2 separate regions of the Homo sapiens genome follow, and region 1 is reported to be linked to region 2. The links are microRNA targets in miRTarBase. Many come from high-throughput screens and were not tested one by one. Region 2 holds a microRNA gene; the other region holds the end of a gene's coding sequence.
What was found. The annotated mature microRNA hsa-miR-4697-3p reads UGUCAGUGACUCCUGCCCCUUGGU and lies in region 2 at 1,245-1,268, shown strand. An mRNA with a match to its seed (bases 2 to 7 or 8) in the 3' UTR can be bound and repressed. Matches are read on the target gene's strand: a 7mer-m8 pairs with bases 2 to 8, a 7mer-A1 pairs with bases 2 to 7 and ends in A, and an 8mer does both.

Region 1 (3,000 bases), not on the chromosome of region 2:
TTTCATTGCAGTTAAAGAAATTGGTCGTGATCTGTACAGGGGCTTGCCTACAGAGGAAAGGATCCAGAAACTAGAGTTCATGTTGGATAAGCTACAGAATGAAATTGATCAGGAGTTGGAACACAATAATTCCCTTGTTAGAGAAGAAAAAGAGACAACTGATACAAGGAAAAAATCACTTCTTTCTGCTGCCTTAGCTAAATCAGGTGAAAGGCTACAAGCTCTAACACTTCTTATGATTCACTACAGAGCAGGCATTGAAGATATAGAAACTTTAGAAAGTCTGTCTTTAGACCAGCACTCCAAAAAAATAAGCAAGTACACAGATGATACAGAAGAAGACCTTGATAATGAAATAAGCCAACTAATAGACTCTCAGCCATTCAGCAGCATATCAGATGACTTATTTGGCCCATCCGAGTCTGTGTAGCAGACAGGTCTATTTAAGCTTTCAAATGAACAGGGTAAAGTTGCATCTAAAGTACCACAGATACAACCATGTTTAAATCCTCGTATGCACTCTGGCCTGCTTCTCCAGTTACTTGCTTGTGTAAGAACAAAAATGAGAAAGGTTGTTTTCCAGTAAAAACATGACCAGCTTACTAATTGGTTGTTTTGGATTGCATTTATAGCTATGCTTTTTTGGGTTTATACTGGGAATTTATTTTTACTAAATTATTTAACTTTTCTAATTATGTAATTATGTAAGCTAGCTTTTCATGTTTATGTATGTATGGTGTCCCCTTGTGTTATTTTTCTTCCTCTTGGTTTTTGAATTAGTGTTAAATAGAATACTGTCTAGATTCTTAAAATATTTTCATTTCCATCATGGTTATAACAAATTTGCTGCATGCCCAAACTGACAACAGCAATCACTGAGGGAACAGGTTTTGAATCTTTCTTTTGTGTTATGAAGTTTATCGTCTCTACTTGCTTGAGATTTTTGTTATTTTGGGGGTTTGGGGGTGCTTTTTGTTTTGTTTTTGCCAAATGTAACATGAAAGCAGATGCTGCAGCTTTAGTCTGTTATGCTGATTTAGTAAAAAAAAATTTTTTACATATATTGCTTGCTTTCGATGCTTCTGTGAAATTTTTTTCTAAAGCTTTTGTGCAGCTGTATGGTAAAAATATGGTGATTAATTTGAAGAGCTTACATTGAAAGACAATGTAATAGGAAATAAATGTAGATTGCAGTTGGTCAAGAATTTTGTAGAGAGGATAACAAGACTTAATTACTGAAAAACAGTAACATAGCATTTTGAAATATAATCTTTTAAAATATTGATGCTTTCCTTTTAAATGGAAATTTAAATTTTATAATTAAAAGTTTAAACATTTATGATAATTTTCCTCATCAGTTCTCCCATAGGAAATAAAGCATGTGAAAGGGTATTTAAAGTTTTGGAGGACTCTTTTTAAAATGACTGTGTTGATAACTAGTTTGGGCTGGTTTTGTTTTAGAAAAAACATTTTCATGTAGGAGTATTCTGTGAAGGAAAGGAATCATGCAAAATATACTTTTTGCTTTGGCGTCTTACAGTTGTAAAGGAATGGTGATCATTCTGAATACTTCTGTAGTGAGTATTCATTAAGAAAAGAATGACAAAAATAGTATTCATACATAGGAATTGGGACCAGTTCTCTGAAAATGAAGATATACTCACACTGGGTCCATTTTACGGGTCCCAGTAACATTTGACTGAGGGAAAACAAGTAAGCTCGACTGTTGTTGGGGTACCTTAATGGTTTCGGTCTGTTATATACCTATAAAATAGACAAGTATATGTTTGTCCCTTTGTAGGTAACTGCTATGATGATTGCTATATAGTGAAACTGACATGAGTTTAAAACTAGATGGAGCAGCTTTTATTGCTGGCAGGAAAAAGCATGGTGTAATATTAAGGACTGGGGCCCAGGTCTAGACTCCAGGACTCCATAAAAGAGTTTAAGTTCAAGCCCTTCCATTAATGAACTGTGTAAGCATAGGCAGTTACAAAAGGACCCATCTCTAAAATGGGAATAATAATACTTTACCTCCCTCACAGTATTGTTGTGAGGGAAACAATAGCATAACTGCAAAAGTGCTTTGAACAGTAAAAAGATATACAAGTAAAAGGCATTATTTATATGAGTAAGAAAGACATTTTTGAGGGGAGAAAAGTTATTCCACTTTAAAAATCAATAGCCAAGTCTCATGCCTTTTGTTACTTTAGTAAGCGAAAATTTCAGGTACTAAATACCTTTCTTAGCCAAGTTTATAACAAAAACATCTCAGTATACTTCATTACTTATTTAAGCGTGATGTCTTTTTTTTTTTTTTTTTTTTTTTTTTTTTTTTTTTTTTTTGAGACAGAGTCTCGCTGTCTCCCAGGCTGGAGTGCAGTGGCATGATCTCGGCTCACTGCAAGCTCCGCCTCCCAGGTTCACGCCATTCTCCTGCCTCAGCCTCCGGAGTAGCTGGGAGTACAGGCGCGGCTAATTTTTTGTATTTTTAGTAGAGACGGGGTTTCACCATGTTAGCCAGGATGGTCTCGATCTCCTGACCTCGTGATCCACCTGCCTCGGCCTCCCAAAGTGCTGGGATTACAGGCGTGAGCCACCACGCCCGGCCACGTGATCTTATTTTAAAAGAACACTGCTATAGAAGAATTTACACACCAAATTCCCTGAAAGCTAAAGTATTGTTCCATAACTTACACTTGAGGCAATCTGCTCAGTGTGTAACCACTTTATAAAAAATAACTTACCATTGATAACCTGGAAGGTGGACTACTTGTAAGTAGCTGGTGTTTATTGATTAAACCATGGAAGTTTTCATGATACCCAAGCATGTTGCTGAAACTGATGCATTTGAAAGAGCTGTTGAAATAATGCAAAACTTTGGTTTTATAAGAATCTACTCATGTTTTAAAAGTATTTAACTCTGTAGACCACAATTATAGAAAGCTCAGTAATGCTGCTAATGACATTTGTAAACTATATCTGTAATGTAGTGCAATA
Region 2 (3,229 bases):
TCTGCACAAGGGAGGCTCCCATTACTGTTCTGTTGGCTTCTAGACCCACCATCCCCTCTCTTTCTGTGGACTCTGCCCGACTTCTGGCCACATGCAACCAGCAGAGTAAACTGCTCCAACACCTCGGGCATGTCCTAGGGCTTGCCCTCCCACCAGGGCCAGCCCAAGATTAGGTCCTCAGCAGCATCAAGGTCTGGGAGAGCCACTGGCCCACATGTCACCATTCTATTCCTCAGCCTCCAACAGGACTCTTCATTTTGGGGAGGGAAAGGGAAGATGGGGCCATAGCCCCTACCTTGAAATTGTACAGTGTGGAGGGGATGTTAGTGCCTACCTGTGACCTTTCTGCTCCACTGCTCAGCAAGATGAGGTAAGGTTGGGTGTCAGAGGGGACCTCCAGCTTCTCTGAAGAGCCAGCCCTTAAGGCACTTGGAGCAAAGGTCATTGAGATCAGCTTTATGTGGAGTAAGGAGGAGGCCTGGGAACCGCTTGTGGCATCAGTTGGGGCGACAGGTGGATGAGTGTGCTCTGATGGAGCTTTTACGGCCCACAGCCACTGCCAGGAGCCTGAGCTCTTCCCCATGCTTGGGACACGTTCCTTGGTCCCCACAGCAGAATGGACATTGAATTTTGGTGCTTTTCCCTTTGGTAGAAGGTGGAGGTATCTGAGGAGTTGTTTCTGTCTTGCTACCTCTGTCTACTATATAGAGCAAGAGTCGGGAATAGGGAGATGTGTGAGAATCACTCTCCCATGGATCAGTGTGGGCCCTGTCCCTCTTCCCCACTGTCACCAACCAGCAGCTTGGGGAAAAGGCTCTGTCGTGGATTTTTGCTGCCTGCTTCCCGCTTCCACTCTTCTTGGCGGTAGATGTTCATGGTGATCCACTTTGGGCGGTCTGAAAGTAGGAGGTGGGGGAAGAGGCAAGCCTGCACACACACTTCCTGTCCACAGGGGGTTGCCTGTGGCATTGGAGGGTGGAGTCTCAGAGTCCAGGGACTGGGAGGAAGGTACTTGATGGGATGGTCTTGATTCTGGAACTTTAGACTGAGGTGTTAGAAAGGGGAATTGTTGGCTAGGGGAGAAGAGCAGTTTAACGCTCCACTTGCTAAGTCGTCTGTATCAGTGTCAGAAGGTCTTGACCTCCCATTCAGATTTAATTTCCTAACTGCCAGGTGTGGGGCTGGGGATAGAGGGCCCAGAAGGGGGCGCAGTCACTGACGTGAAGGGACCACATCCCGCTTCATGTCAGTGACTCCTGCCCCTTGGTCTTCAGTGTTTTTCTCTTCCCCAGGAGGGACTTTGATCATGCAGGATAGAATTCTCCCATCGCACACCTGGGGGCAAGTTTTAGATGAGCTTCTTTCCTCCATTTCACCTGGTGGTCTGAGGACACACAGAGGGTGGGGGTGAGCAGGCAGTGTGGGTGGGGAGGGGCTACCTCCCCCAGACCCCTTACAAACTCTGTACCTCTCGGTGCGCGGCAGCCTCTTGCTGTAGTTCTTCTTTTCTGGATATGACTGTCAGTTTCGTCATGAGATTTCTTGCTCTCATTTCGAACTCTTTCTTTCTTCCACTTTCTTTGGGGGCGACCCCCGATCCATGCCAGGTCTTCCTGTGAAGACCGTTCCAACCTCGTTTCCATTTCTTGAATGTTGAGTATTACAACATCACTGCGCTAGGGTGCTTCATGGTGCTGTTCTCGAAGAGGCCAGTTGGGCTGAATCTCCTTCCTCCCACTGGCTCCTGATATCTTGCTGTATTTTGTCTTCTTTCTGATTTTTCCCTAGGGGTTTGGGGTGGGTGACTTAGGGGCGGCTTTTGTGTTCTCCCTCTCTCTCTCTTTCTTTTCTGTATGTATGTATGGACTGGTTAAAGTGAGTTTGGGCAGCTGACTTTATGGTATGGGTTGGCTGACTTTTGTTCAACATTAAAGACAAACCAACAAATTGTACAGCTGCACACAGAACACCTTTGAGTGTGAACTTGAATGGCAACTAGAGGCTTACTTTTTGAACTTCAGGTATGTAACTCAAAAGTAAATAAAACCACTATTTTTTCAGTAAGCTTTTTTTTCTTCTAAAAGATGACTTAGAAATCAAACTATAAGAACATGAAATCGGTGCTGTACCAAAGCCTTATATGAACATATTCTACACTCTGTATAACCTGTCTGTGAGGAGCTCCCTGCTCTATCACCCTCTTCTCAAAAGCCTGGGAATGCCAGCGCGTGCCAAGCCTGGGGCTGGGTCTTGGGGACCTGTGGGCCAAGGGCACCCTGGGAAGTAAAAGATGACGGTGAGGATGGGACACCCTTCTGCTGCCTGAGCAGACTGCAAGGAAACCAGATGTGTGTGTGTGCGCGCACCTGCATATATATGTGTGCATACCTGTGCGTGTGTGTGCGTGTGCGTGTGTGCACGCAAGAGAGTGAGAGCGGGAGAGAGCTCACAGGTGCACAGTGTCATGGTGAATGTACTAAGTACGAGCTTGAAGGGAGGCCCAGGTTGGCTCTGGGAGTGGGGCGGTGTGGGAATGAAGGGGGGATGCTCTCTCCCCTGTTTTCTGCCTCCTTCCCTTCTCCGTCAGGGAAGGGAGGTGTATTGGAAACAGCTACACTCTCAATCAGGTGCTTTTTTTCCCTCAAAATCTCCAAACTCAAAGCATTTATAAGGGGCCCTTCCAATGGGCAGGCACCCCCAGCCACCAAATCACAGACTTCCAAGAGTAGGAGGAACTGTCTCCTCCCGAACCCTTCCTTGCTTTCCTGGGGAAGAGGGTTCTTCCTGCAGGGACCCTGGGCATCCTGCTGCTGGGCCTGGGCCTATAGACTGCCCTGCCCCTTCTTCCCAAACACTGAGAAGACCCCGCTGGAGATGACCCCAAAGCCACGCCTGCTCTACGGCCCTAAGCAATAGACGCCTGCCCTGGCTGCTGATGATGGTGATCCCTTTGTCCTTTGACTTGGCAGTCAAAAATGGAGTGACACCCCAGACTCAGTCAGGAAGAGAACCTGCAGCCTGCCTCAGCTCAGGCTACCACGCCAGGCTCCACTCGCTGGTATTTCCAGGCTTGCTAAGTACTAACCAACTCATCCCCAGTAACACTGCATGTTCATATCCTGAATTACAAATCAAAATGAGCAAACACGTGCATAAGCAAATGAGAAAAAAGAAGGCACACATCAAATGATGAGATGTGCAGCCAGTGCAGGTACCCCGGGAGTGTTGC

Region 1: miRTarBase lists PDZD8 as a target of hsa-miR-4697-3p. Seed matches in the 3' UTR shown: 7mer-A1 at 859-865 and 7mer-A1 at 1,833-1,839.

Annotation. Positions count from the first base shown.
Region 1 is chr10:117,280,698-117,283,697 of GRCh38, reverse strand. It overlaps PDZD8 (PDZ domain containing 8), which reads left to right. Exons shown (of 5, transcript NM_173791.5): 5 at 1-3,000. The coding sequence ends at 430. Among named protein-coding and RNA genes, the nearest start is that of SLC18A2-AS1, 40 kb to the right of the region's middle.
Region 2 is chr11:133,896,545-133,899,773 of GRCh38, reverse strand. It overlaps MIR4697 (microRNA 4697), which reads left to right and starts at 1,193; the gene lies at 1,193-1,270. IGSF9B (immunoglobulin superfamily member 9B) reads left to right here. Exons shown (of 20, transcript NM_001277285.4): 20 at 1-3,229.